Regions from separate parts of the Homo sapiens genome. Here regions 1 and 2 are each linked to region 3. The links come from fine-mapping of genetic effects on gene expression. A gene starts in region 3. Each other region holds a variant in brackets. All regions are shown on one strand. Distances are between the middles of the regions.

Region 1 (4,240 bases), 200 kb before region 3:
AGGTACGTGTTGTTATATTCAGCCTCATTAAACAAGGAAGTTTCAATGTTATATGAATTTTTTTATGCTCTGGTGTCTTCAGCAAAGGATATATCTTGTTGGCAGACTCTGAATTTTTTTCAGATGTCAAAAACACTTGAAGCTTTAAAGTCTAATGGGTTTCTTAATCCAACTGCAGCCATTCAGCCTCAGTGAAAAATCCATTCCTTCATATTCAGTTGCTCCTAAATGTCTTTCCCTTTAAATTTATTGACTGACTTTCCTGTCTTTCTGTCTCATGTCGGAAGTCAGTAGGCACATGTAAAAAATAATCAAAACACACCGACTCCCTAGTGAAGAATCAATGGTGTCACTGCTGTCATATATCTAGACTAGGCATAATGAACTGCAGCATTTCATCTTTGCATATAAGATAATTTGGGCATCAATCGTATTCTGACAGATTTATGTCACTCAAAGGACAGTTCTACTTTTCCTTTTTTTTTTTATCGCTTCATTGAAGCCTGCTTAATTTCTCTCAGTCAACTGGTGCCCCCAAGACATTATTTTTATTCTTAAATGTCCAATATCTGCCTGATGTCTGTGTTTGTGCACATTGGGGCCACAGTAAATAGGCTAAAAGGCAGTCCCACCTGCTTAAAACACACGCAGGCTTGTCAGTTGGCCTTTTCAAAAGTGCACATCAGTGTCATCTGTGACTTCAGAGATGGGTGATATATATTTAAAAACAGGTCCTTAGTTTGGAAAGGCATGCAGTTATGGGCAAGGAAAAATAAAATGGGGGCAAATTATAAAAAATAAAATAAAGTCTCTGAAGTGATAGTGAAGACAGATCGCACCCGACTGTACTTACTTCCCCCTTGCTTTGCGATTGCTTTACATGATGAAGGTTACATGTAGTGCCATTGCCCATCCATGCCCATATTCATGCCCATTCCACTCATAGGTCCTAGAAAGGAGATAAAATCCAAGAAGAGGCCGGAAAATCAGCAATAATTGATGGTGAAAAAATAGAAGGAAACTCAGATTCCTTTTCACTTATTGCCTTGGTTTAAAAAGAAAAAAGAAAAAGGATGTGTATGGGGCAGAGTATAATGGTACTGTGGTAAAATCTTTACTTTTTCAAAGAGGAATTTTTTCCCCCACCCAATGTAAAGAAAGCAGGCAGAGCAGGCAGCAGGCAAATGTTAAACCCACCATGACAGTGGGATAGTAGAGTGGATGGAGAGGCTGGTGGAGCAGGTGGCACTTCCCAGGGAAGCCCAGAGGCGGGATGAGCCAACCTACCTGCAGGCCGGATCCCCATGTGTTGCTGACCATCCAACACAAAGCTCCCCATGGGCTGACCCTCTGGACTATATGCTGCTCCTTGGCTCACTGAAGGATCAAGAAGAAAACCTGATTGTGGTCATTCGAGGACACAGAGGAGAAAGAAGAAAAGATATACCAAACAATCAGCAATTGTTCCCGCTGCAGCACTGAAACGTTATAGCAACAATGTGGTTGGCACTCTACAAATGGGGGTGTGGTTTGTCTGAGTGTCTTGATGACTGAGTGAAGGTGTGTGAGTAGCTTTAAAAATGTTCTGGAAGAAAGACTTCACTGGCCAGTTTCCCAGGGGGTTCGTCCTCTGCAGCCCTTGCTTTTTTACTTATCTCTTGATTAGGGGGACGAAGGCTGGAGAAGTTAGGGGTACCCCATATACAA[A/G]TATTGCAATGTACCATTTGGTTGGGATTCTCTGAGGCTGCCATCTCTGGTGGCTTAATACAAAATGTTCATATTTTACACAAACATTTTAAACCTGAATACAATTTCACAAGGTTAAATAGACTCAATTAAAAGCTTGCCTTTTTATTCACACCAAGGAAATATAAACTTAGTAAATATAATATTTCCATTGTTTTATGTTCTTCTCCCTAGCCTCCAATAGTGGGAACATATTTTGGCGTTATTGGGGAAATTTTGCCAAAGGATGACTAATTTTCACAAATCCTTTAAAGCGAGGCCACAGGTAAAATCTCCATCAAGTTTAACACCGTTGTTAGTGGCAGCAGTCATCACCCCAAGGAAAACTGTTTTTCCCTATAAGCCTTATTGCAGGAGACCACAAACCCTCAGTAAACTGAGGAAATGTCTGTTTCAAAATAAAACGACTTGGAGTATACCAGGAGGGTTCTGATAGTACCATACAAAAACTGTTTTAGAGAAATTGAGAGAATTCTGAGAAAAGCTCACATGTATTTTAGCAGCATGGATGTGAAGCATTTTATACAAAGGTAATATTCTTTAATAAAAAATAATGGTGGCAATGCAGCAAGTCAGGCTTTAATAGGATATTATGAATAGCCAAAGCAAATGAATGGATACAATAAGTTTAACAGCAGATGCTACAGAAAGGAAAGCCTAGCATACACCAAGGAGCTGTGGGTAACAGAAAAATGAGAGTGTGCTAATGATTGGATGCAGACAAGCAAGGGGTAATGCCAGAGCTCACAAACACGCTGCTTGTGGCATTAATACCTGTGCCCAATTACCAATTCAGAAAGAAAATAAAAAGCAGTGTCAGTAGAGTCAGGGTGGGAAATCTCCAATTAGCACCACTTACTGAAGTTGCTTCCTTGAGTGGGATTCTGGGGACATTAAAAAAAAAAATCCAGAATGCCTGGTGGAAGCACTTATTTATCAGATGAGGAAACTACTGGAGTATAACTTGATGAGGATTTGTGCCTGTGGGACATAAATATAGATACTACTTGGAACTTGCCTGCTCGATTTGACTGGTCAATCATGGGCTGTACTATTCTTCTTCTGGCATTAATAAACCTGAAAGAGAACAGAGAAGTCCAGTCATCATACTCCGTTTCTGTACTCTGCGAACACCTTTGCATGAATGCTGAGGAGCACAAAATACAGTCAAATCTCTTCTGAAAATTATCTTTTCAATTTAAAGGTGATTTTCCCTTTCAGCGTTCAAAAATAGTTGACTGGGTAATCTCCGTCGTCACTGCGTAGTCAACTCCAAAACAACTTGCTAGAAGAGCTCAGGGACGGAATAAAGTTCTCCATGAGAAAGCTTCTATTAACTTCAAATTGTGCTTCTGCTTCTTGCACAAGTAGGAATCTGGTTAAAGTTCACAGGCTGGAAGACTTTCCCCCTTTCCCTAGACTCCCCGTGATAGGGAGACCCAGCTTCCCCTTGCAGCTGGTCATAAATGGAGACCAGGCTCTAGCACTCGGCTTTCACAAGGTATTGTTAGGTCAGCAAAGCCATCAATTAGGCTGTCTGAAGTTTTATCACCAACACAGCAGTAATAAGTGCTGGCCAGAAAGACTTCTGCTCTTCGGCAACTCCTGCAGTTTAAGCCTGTAAAGTTAGGGGTCATTCAGAGGTCAGTGCCAGCTGGGGGCAGCCTTTCCAGCCTAAGCTGGGACACCCAGGGCAGAGGATAAGGTAACTGCCAACCATAAACCCAGCCACCTTTCAACCCACTAGAAAGACAGAGCCTCAGGTACACATGTTTGATATTAGAGCTCAAGAAACGTTTGCAAATCAGGTGGTGGCTGAATCGCAGGAATGCAAAGGAGAAGCAGTTATTTCATCTAAGAAGCCTGGATCTAATTTTGTTGGAAATCCAAAAATAAGTGCCTACTTCATGTTACTTTAATGTTTAATAATGCCCATCAAATATTCATGTACAAACAGAGTAAGATGATAAGAAATCTCCTTTATTTCTCCAAATTTAATAAAAACAAAACAATTTTCTACCATTTGTGAGTTACCCTTGTCCCTGTGCACTTAACGACGTGTATTCCCCACACATTTGAGCTCATGCACACGATTCACTGACCACGCATTTCGGAGGAGCAGGGAGCATCCAGCTAGCTTCTCCCTAAAAATATACCCATTGATAACATCTGTCAATATTTCCAGTTTCAGATCTTAAGCACAGGGGGACTTCATGATTAATGAGTCCACCTGGGGCCACAGGCAGGAACTGAAAACTCACTCTTTGAAATTAGCCAGAAAAATTCAGTGTGTGCTGGCAGCTCTGTGTTCCGAGGAAGCTGAAGTCCCTTTGGAGGAGGACAGTCAGGCCCCACTCGGTCGGGCCTCCTGTGAGCACTCTGGTGGGAATACAATTAAGCTGAGGAATAATAGCTGGGAGAAAACCAAAGGAGTCTTTTGCATATGGTGTTTGTTTGCAAAACAATGGACTTCTTTATTACTTAAGAAAGTGTA
Region 2 (4,240 bases), 870 kb before region 3:
ATATCTTCTCCTAGTTTTCTCCTTGGCAATCTTTGTTCATTTCATTATTGCCTCTATATGTTTCTGTAGCTTCTAATTCTAAATCAAGGATTTAGTTTTCCATAAATGTAATTAAAGATTGAATTTATTTATTCATCATTTATCCATTCAAAAATATTGTCTTGGAACTCTGCTGGTACAAGGGGTACAACAGTGAACAAGACAGGCAGTCCCTAACCTCCTGGAGTTTATAGTCCATTGAAAAGATAGATATTAAACAAAGAATTACATGATAATGTAAATAATTAATGACAGTTGTGATACTTGCCAAAAAATATGTAGTGTTCTGTGAACGCTTGCAATGAAGGAGACTTAATCTTGATCTGAAGACCCAAGAAGCCTTCCCTGAAAAACTAGTAAGCTGCAAGTTTAAGTATGAACTAAAGTTACCCAGGGAAAGGAGGAATGTTATAGTCATAGGCAACTGCACATGTGAAGGTTATGAAATGGGAAAAGATGTTTAAGGACTTAAGGAGGCCAGTATGGATACAGGTTATTGAATAAAAGGAACAGTGGAATTGACCGGAGCAGGAGTCAGGAGCAGATCATGGAATAACTCATTTGCCTGACTAAGGGTTTTGGTCTGTGTCCTAAAAAAATGAGGAGCAACTATGTTTATTTAGGTTGGGGTGTGACATCATCTAAAAGATCACTCAGTGATATTTTACAACAGCCAGCACTGTGAGTGGATTGATTTAATTGTACATACTCAACTGGAGGAAACATTCTTGGAATTTTGCTGTCGAACATTTTGTAGACAGTCTTTTGATTGGCTGGCAGAACCAAAACACCTTTGCTCTTTCAGAGGAATCTTTATGTGAGAGGCAGAGCTCAGTGTCCTGTTGTTAGAGAAGCCTGTTGAAAGGGAGGACTCTATACTGACCAAGTGACACGACAGTTTACTATATAATCATCAGGAATTATTTCAATGGATCCAAGAGTTCAATGACGAACTTACAGTTTCAGTTCTGACATAGAAATAGCATGGCAGTCTTAATTCTGTCCTTAAAACAAAAAAGAGCTGGACAAATGAAAATGAATTATTTCTCATATCTATCAGAGAACTTAGGTCTCCATGTAAACAGCTGCAACAGAATCTGGAGGCATATCCAGGCAATCGCAGCTGAGATCTGCTTACCCAGAACAGAAGCTGCTCGTGTCATTAACTGGTAGAAACAGTTAAATGGTAATTTTAACCTAGGAATAGAGGCTTAGTTTGAGGCTACTGTAAGAGTGAGAAAATTCTGGGAGCCACAGGTTTAAGGGTGCTCCCATGTTTTTGTCAGCTTTATCTCCAGGGAGTCTAAAAGGTTTTTATGGTAAAGATCTGAGAAAGATGCCCTCCTGAATCTGGCAGAAAGAGAAGAGTAATCATCGTGAAATATGCCCACAGCTTTGTTATAACCAAGACCTGTATTCCAGAGGAAAAGACTTTGCTGGAGCATTCTCTCAGCTAGAAGGAAAGAATTTGTAGACAGTTTGTAGTTAATCGCCCTAAACCTCAGTTTTGTTATTTGTAAAAAATGGAAATAATGATGCCTACTCAATTAAGCTTTTAATGATAAGTAAATGGGATAATATATAAGAACACACCTAATACAATGTAGTCACTTGAGAGGTTTCCTGGATTTAAGTCTCTAATTAAACCATGTGTTATATTAAAAGCACAGTTATATTATTAAAAGCACAGTTGTGAGGTACATGCTTGTGGCACAAGTGAGTGAAGCGGGATGCTCATCAAAAGCAGCTGTCAAAGGCCATCTTCAAACATGACATCCTGAGATGACTTCAGAAGATTCAAGATCACCACAAACCTGGCCCAGGGAACCATTCCACCATCAGTGGTTTTCAGGCATTTTCTCATGGTTCATTTCAACCATTGGGAAACTTGAAGAGAGAAGATTAGTTAGTT[GATA/G]ATAATAATAATTTTTACTGCTACTTTCTCTCTCTTCAAATTTCTATCTCACCTCAGCAGGAGGCAGAAAACTACTCAACTGTGGTCATGTATCTGAAGGATATAAAAAGGAAATACTGCCACCAAGAAAGAAGTAGGAGGCAGGGGGTAAAAGTTGTACCATCAAAAAAAAAAAATAAAATAGAATTAAAAAAAGATTGTGAAGGTCAGCCTTAAGACACAAGCCAACAAAAAGACTGAGTGTTAATTGGAATAGGATGCTCCCTCTCCCCCACAATTCACAACCACAATAGGGCTTCAGTAAAATAACAGTGGTTTACAGCTGAGCAAACTGCCAGACACACACTATCTCTGAAGAGGAATACTTAGGGAAGCCCTAAGAGGGAAGAGATAAACAAGGATACCAGGAGAATTTGAAGCCTCTAGCACCTACAGCTACAGCAAACATTAACACAACACAAGTCCTAGTCACATTAACATAACTCCTACAAGGGCTATTTACATTAGTCCCCATTACCTGAGTCCACGTGCCTGGCTTCCAATAAAAATTTGCAAAGTCTGTTAAAAGGTAAGAGAAAACACAGTCTGAAGAGAAAAGGCAAGCACCAGAGTCAGACTCAGACATGATACTGATATTAGGATAATCAGAGAAGGAATTTAAAATACAACAATTAATATATTAAGGGCTCTAATGGAAACTGTAGACAATATGCAAGAACAGATAAGTAAAGTAAGAAGAAATAAGGAAACTTTAAGAAATAATTGAAAGGAAATTCTAGAAACAAAAAACACTATAATAGAAATAAAGAAAGCTTTCGATGAGTTCATCAATAAAATTGACAGCTTAGAAAAGAATTAGCGAACTTAAAAGTAAGTAGATATTTCCCAAACTGAAATTCAAAGAGAAAAAATAATTAAAAATAGTGTACATACATCCAAGAATTGTGGAACAACTTAATAAGTTATAATATGCATAATTGGAATATATGAAATGAAAGAGCATGGAGCAGAATAAATATTTGAAGTAATAGTGGCTTAGAACTTTTCAAAATCAATCAATGACAGACAGAAACCATAGATCCAGGAAGTTCAGACAACACCAAACAGGAAATATACCCAATACACACACACATATGCATGCACACATAAGTGCACACACACTCACACACCTGGCCATGTAATATTCTAATTTCAGAAAGCCAAAGACAAAGAGAAAATCATGAAAAAAGTTGAGGATCAGAGAAAAGAAACACCTTACCTAGAGGAACAAGAATAACAATTATAGCAGACTTGCACAACATACAAAAGTCGATTACTGTCCTATGTAACAGCAATAAATAATTAAAATTTTAATTTTTAAAATTACCATTTACAACAGCACCAAAAATTAAAGTATTCAGGTATAAATCTAATAAAATACGGCTCTGCATTCAGACTACTTCAAAATGCTGAAGAAAGAAATCAAAGAATACCTAAATACATGGAGAGATATTCCATGTTCAGAGACTGGGATAATCTTAGGTTGTTAAGACATTGGTTCTTCCCAACTTTATTCATAGATTTAATGCAATCCTAAACAAAATCCCAGCAAGGTGCTTTGTGGCTATCAACAAGCCAATTCTAAAGTTTATATGGAAAGGCAAAAGACTGAGAATAGCCAACACAATACTAACAAAGTTGGAGGACTGACATCCCAAAACTTCAAGATTTACTATAAAGCTACAGTAATCCACAGAGTGTGGTACTGATGAAAGAATAGACTCAATGGAACAGAATAGGAAGCCTGTAAACAGGCCCACACAAATTTAGTCAACTGATCATCGACAAAAGAGCAAAGGCAGTTCAATGGAGAAAGGATAGTCTTTACAAGAAATGGTGCTAGAAAACTGGAGGTTTATGTGCAAAAATAAAATGAATTTAGACATAGATTTTACATCTTTTGCAAAAATTAATGTGAAATACATTATAAACCTAAATGTAAAACACAAAATATACAAATTCTAAAAGAAAACATAGGGGAAAATCTAGGTGACCTTGGGTTTGGTGATGAATTTTTAGATACAACACCAAAAGTATGATTCATGAAAGGAAAAATGGTCAGTTGGACTTTATTAAAATTAGATACCTCTGCTGTGTGAAAGATATTGTTAAAAGAATACAAATAAAAGCCAAAGACTGAAGAAAAACATTGCAAAACACATATCTGGTGTGTTTTAGATACAATATCTAAAATATGCAAAGAACTCTTAAAACTCAATAATAAGAAAACAAACAATCCTATTTTTA
Region 3 (4,240 bases):
GGGGCGTGCGCGCCGTAGTGCTGTGTGGCGTGGAGCGGCGGCCCGTGGTTCAGGTGGTGAACCGGGGGGATCGGCCGCGGCGCGTGAGGGTCTCCGTACATGGAAGCGGGAACCCCTACTCCGTCCATCCCGCCGTAATGGGGCAGCTCATCGTACTGTCAGAACCCGGGAAGGGGGAGGGGGCGCAGGAGGTGAGGGAGAACAGAGGAGGGGGGTGGAAAGGGAAAAAGAGCAGGGAGAAGAGGGCGAACAGAAAAGAGAGGAAGGGATAAAGATGAGAGAGAGGGAGGGAGGTAAGAGAGAAGAGAGGAGGAGGAGGAAAAGGAGGAGAGGGGGAGAGAGAGAGAGAGAGAGAGAGAGAGAGAGAGAGAGAGAGAGAGAAAATAAAAATAAAAACAAAGTCAGAAAGGAGAAAAGTACCGAGCACAAGTTGAGCACACAGAAACCAAACCAGCCAAAACAACGGAGTTAAAAGTTGTGAGGAAAAAATGTTATTAAATTTAAAAATGAAAAAGCATGAACCAAGAGCAACGTTTAGAGAAGGAAGAGGAGGCGGCGAGGCCGGGGATTTGAGGGGGCGCCGGGAGGCCCCGCTCCCGCCGGAGGCAACAGAACCGTAGCGAGCCAACGGAGGGAGAAGTGGAGTTAGTGTGAGGAGGAAGCCCCGGATCCCACCCCTAACCCCCCTTCGCCTCCTCTGAGGATCCAATAAATCAAAAGGCGAAATGAAACAAAATAAAGAGAAGAAAAACGCTAATAATCAGCACGAGAACGCCGAGGACTAGGAAAGACTAGGGCCAGTGCCTCCCCGGGGGCAGGGAGCGGAGGGTGGGGGGGCGAATAACGTGAAAGTTACCAGAAACATTATTTAGCAGCGGATTCCCTGCGTCCTTGTCAATTTCAGAGACAAAACAAGCAGCCCAGGCTAGTAGTCTAGGCGGCGGCGCAGCGGCTGCGGCAGCGCGGCCCCAGCGGCGGCCCCGGCGGCGGCTCCTACGCAGCCCGTGCCCGCCCCGAGCCGCGCGAGCCACGGCGGCAGCGGCGCAGCAGCGGCAGCAGGAGAACCGGGGGAATCGCGCTGCTGGGGTAAAAGCTGGAGCGAGGCGAAAGCGTGTAACGATTGCACACGCACACACACACACCACTCACACGCACTCGCCGCCCGCCCGCTCGCACAGCGCTGGAACACGCGCGCCCAGACACGCACACACGCACGCACACACACTCGCACACACGCAGAGGCACGGGAGGGAAAGAAGCCGATGAATAATTTTGCTATTTTTTAAAATACTGGCCGCCATCATCAAGCAGCGAGCAGCAGCAGAAGCGTTGAAGGGAGAGGAGGCATCGGGACAGGCCCCTCTTAGGAGAGGATTTATATCTAGGTAAGTGTTGGAGATTTAAACCTACCCTTTGCGCCATCAGTCTGCGCTCCAATAAACTCCTGGATGTGTCGTATATTTAATATCCCAGTCCGGATAAGAAAGTGATCTAGGCTGAAGATTCCTTTTTTTTTTTTCCAAACCAAAGAGACTTCTCCCAATTCTCCAATATGCTATTTTTTAGGGGGGAAAAAAAGCCCAGTCTAGACAACGAAGAATTTTTTTTTCTGTGATATTTCTTCTTTTTCTCTTTTTTCCTCTTCTTCCTCCTCCTCCTGATCTTCCTCCTCCTCCTCCACCTCCTCCTCCTCCCCCCTCCCCTCCTCCTCCTCTTCGGTCCTCCTTTCCCCCTCTTTCTCTTCTCTTCCCCTCAGTTGGAAAAAAAAAGAAAGAAAAGAAAAAGAAGAAAAAGAAGAAAAAAATTGTCAAGCCCCCGAACTGAAGGTTACGAGCGGCCCGTCAGCAGCCCACATGTAACCGAACTGTCGTGTTTCATGGCTTTTTGCCACTCCAGCTGTCAATCAAAGCCCGGAATGTCAAGGTAGTGAATGAATGATGGTTGATGATGATGAAGAGGAGGAATCTTTCAGACCCGTTTTTTTCTTCCAGTAAAACTCCGCGAGGGGTTTCTGCTTCTTGAATTTTTTCCTCCCCCCTCCCCCCTTTTTTAGCTTTGCCCCCGCGGTATCTATAATACGATCCTCTCTCTTTAAAGTATTGTTCAAAGAAAGCAGTGAGAAAAATCAAGAAAAAAAAATGAATAGTTTGCAAAAATTGGACTTCCTCCCCCCCTTTCCTGGTAGGTATTTTGTCTCTCCCTCTCTCTCTTTCTCGCTCGCTCGCTCGCTCTCACTCGCGCTCGCTCTCTCGCGCTCGCTCTCTCTCGCTCTCTTTCTCTCTCTGGGAGATGAGTGAGTGTCAGTAGGTGTTGGCAGGTTGGCTGCTGCCTGGCTTATTGAAGAGCCTCAGTTTGGCGGCGCGGGTCGGCGGCGGGAGAACGAAATGACGGAACCCGGAAGTCGTGGTGGCCATAGCCCGTCGTACGGCGGAGACACATCCCGGGAGTGGGGAGCGGGAGCGAGGAGGAGCGCGCCGCGCCGAGCCTCTGATATGCAACGAGTGCGATCGGACAGCCCCGGCTGGGGGGGTGGGGGAGGCGGGGGGGCGGGAGGGGGAGGGGAGGCTCGAGCCGGGCGGACCCGAGCAAATCAGCAAGCCTGCTCCTCCACGGGGATGGGGGACGGCGGGGGGGAGGAAAAGGAGAGTGTGTCTGTGTGTGTGAGTGTGTGTGTATGTGTGTGCGTGCGCGCGTGTGTGTTGCGCGCGCGCGCGCGCGAACAGGGAGAGAGGGAGAGGGGGAGAGAGAAGAGGACAGGGAGAGCGCAGAGAGGAAAACTGCAGAAAACCACAGGGAAAGTACGGTACCGCCTCAGATCTTTTCATTTAAAAAAAAAAAAAAACTTACTTCTAGTTCATTTTCCCATCACTCCCGGCTCCTGCCTAACTGGGTCTTGCCGGGGACGTTTGGCATGGCGCTCTAGCTTTTGTTCCTTTTAATTCCGCGGCCTCCCTCTCCTCTGCCCGCCGATTACAGCACCCCGAAGGCTTCCTGCTAACGTCCAAGGGCAGCAAGCTCTGCAGACGGTACCACTGCCGGGCTAAATTTTTTATTAAGTGGCACTTTCTTTTCTGCGCAGATCCAGCAACCTTGTCAATACTCATTTTTTTCCAGGACCAGAAGAGACCAGCTTAACTCAGAGCACACTCCCTCCAAGCGGTGCGGACAAGGGGCCACCCCGAGAGTCTTTGGGGGCCGCGGCGGAATCGGGAGGGAGGAAGTGAGGAGGCAGTCATCTGGGTCCGATGTAGCCAAAGGCGTGTGTGTGTGTGTGTGTGTGTGTGTGTGTGTGTGTGTGTGCGCGCGCGCGCCCGCGCGCCCGTGCGCGCGCGCGACTAGTGTGCGTCTCCAAAGTGGATCTCACTCAGAGCTGGGAAGCACAGGAGGAAAAGACGGAGAGAGTGGGGGAGAAAGAAGTTGCCGGGCGAGGAGGAGTGGCCGGCGCTCACAGCCCAGCTTTGTTGTGGTCGCCCGAGGCGCAGCGGCGGGCCGCGGTAACGCCTGCTAATGGCTGTGTTAATTACACAGGGGCGATTTCGCGGGGTCAGGGAGATGGGGCCAGCTCCGAAAGAACTTTTCCAAAAAGGAAAAGGAAACGAAGGGAACTACCCCACACCGTTTGGGTGGAAACTAGTTGTGGCCGGTGCCCTGTCCTCCCTGGCCCGAGCTGCACCAGGCTTCACCTCTGCGCGGCTGGTTTCCCGGCGGCCGCGCGTCAATCACTACGAGCCCGGAGTTGGGGGCGGAGCCACGGTCACCCCGCGCAAGCCTTGCCGCCCAGCAGCCCCCATGCCCCTCGGCCCCTTGTGGCGCGGCCGGGCGGACAGGCGCTGGAAGCGCGTCCTCTCCCCAACTTCTCGCTCTCGCCCTCCCAGTCCCTGGCCCAGAGAGTGGAAAGCGGACTGTTGTTCTCCAACAGCCGCATCCCTCCCCAACTTTGAACCCATTCTGAGAAGTGGAGAGTAGTGTCTTCCGCGAGCCGCGTCTAACCGACTTTCCCGCGGAGGGAGGGTGGGATGGGGGAGGTTGATTAGAGAGAATAAAGTACTCTGTGTGTGTGTTGTGTGTGAGAGAGAGAGAGAGAGAGCGAGAGAGAGCGGGGAGGAGGGCGGGTGGGAGGGCTCTTTTTTTTGGCCCCCGTTCCATGTTCCCTGCTTCACTGTAAGCTTTCGAGCAACAGAAACTAGGCTAAGATTGCAGCCTGCAGAGACTCCAAGCGGAGTCGGAGAAATTTGGCCTC

Direction of the effects. Alleles are on the strand shown, and positions count from the first base shown. SD is a standard deviation of normalised expression in the study named. Not every link is listed here.
For the expression in stomach of the gene that starts at base 2,505 in region 3, allele GATA in region 2 goes with a lower level than allele G (small effect, 0.15 SD a copy in GTEx).

The links. PIP is the estimated chance that this variant, and not a neighbour inherited with it, causes the effect. A credible set is the group of variants that fine-mapping cannot tell apart.
Region 1: its variant is the best candidate, but not a certain one, in a credible set for the expression of MEIS2 in stomach (GTEx, PIP 0.88).
Region 2: its variant is the best candidate, but not a certain one, in a credible set for the expression of MEIS2 in stomach (GTEx, PIP 0.82).

Annotation. Positions count from the first base shown.
Region 1 is chr15:36,893,864-36,898,103 of GRCh38, forward strand. MEIS2 (Meis homeobox 2) reads right to left here. Exons shown (of 12, transcript NM_170675.5): 10 at 2,765-2,823; 11 at 1,288-1,398. Among named protein-coding and RNA genes, the nearest start is that of MIR8063, 77 kb to the right of the region's middle. RefSeq lists an enhancer at 3,940-4,240. The variant A/G (reference allele first, on the strand shown) is at 1,708.
Region 2 is chr15:36,230,292-36,234,531 of GRCh38, forward strand. No RefSeq gene overlaps it. Among named protein-coding and RNA genes, the nearest start is that of LINC02853, 190 kb to the left of the region's middle. The variant GATA/G (reference allele first, on the strand shown) is at 1,952.
Region 3 is chr15:37,098,045-37,102,284 of GRCh38, forward strand. MEIS2 (Meis homeobox 2) reads right to left here and starts at 2,505. Exons shown (of 12, transcript NM_170675.5): 1 at 1,411-2,505; 2 at 1-155. The coding sequence starts at 1,422. It overlaps LOC124903465 (a long non-coding RNA gene), which reads left to right and starts at 1,204. Exons shown (of 2, transcript XR_007064581.1): 1 at 1,204-1,385; 2 at 1,757-4,240. RefSeq lists silencers at 877-1,076, 1,227-1,286, 3,736-3,875 and enhancers at 2,346-2,505, 2,756-3,035.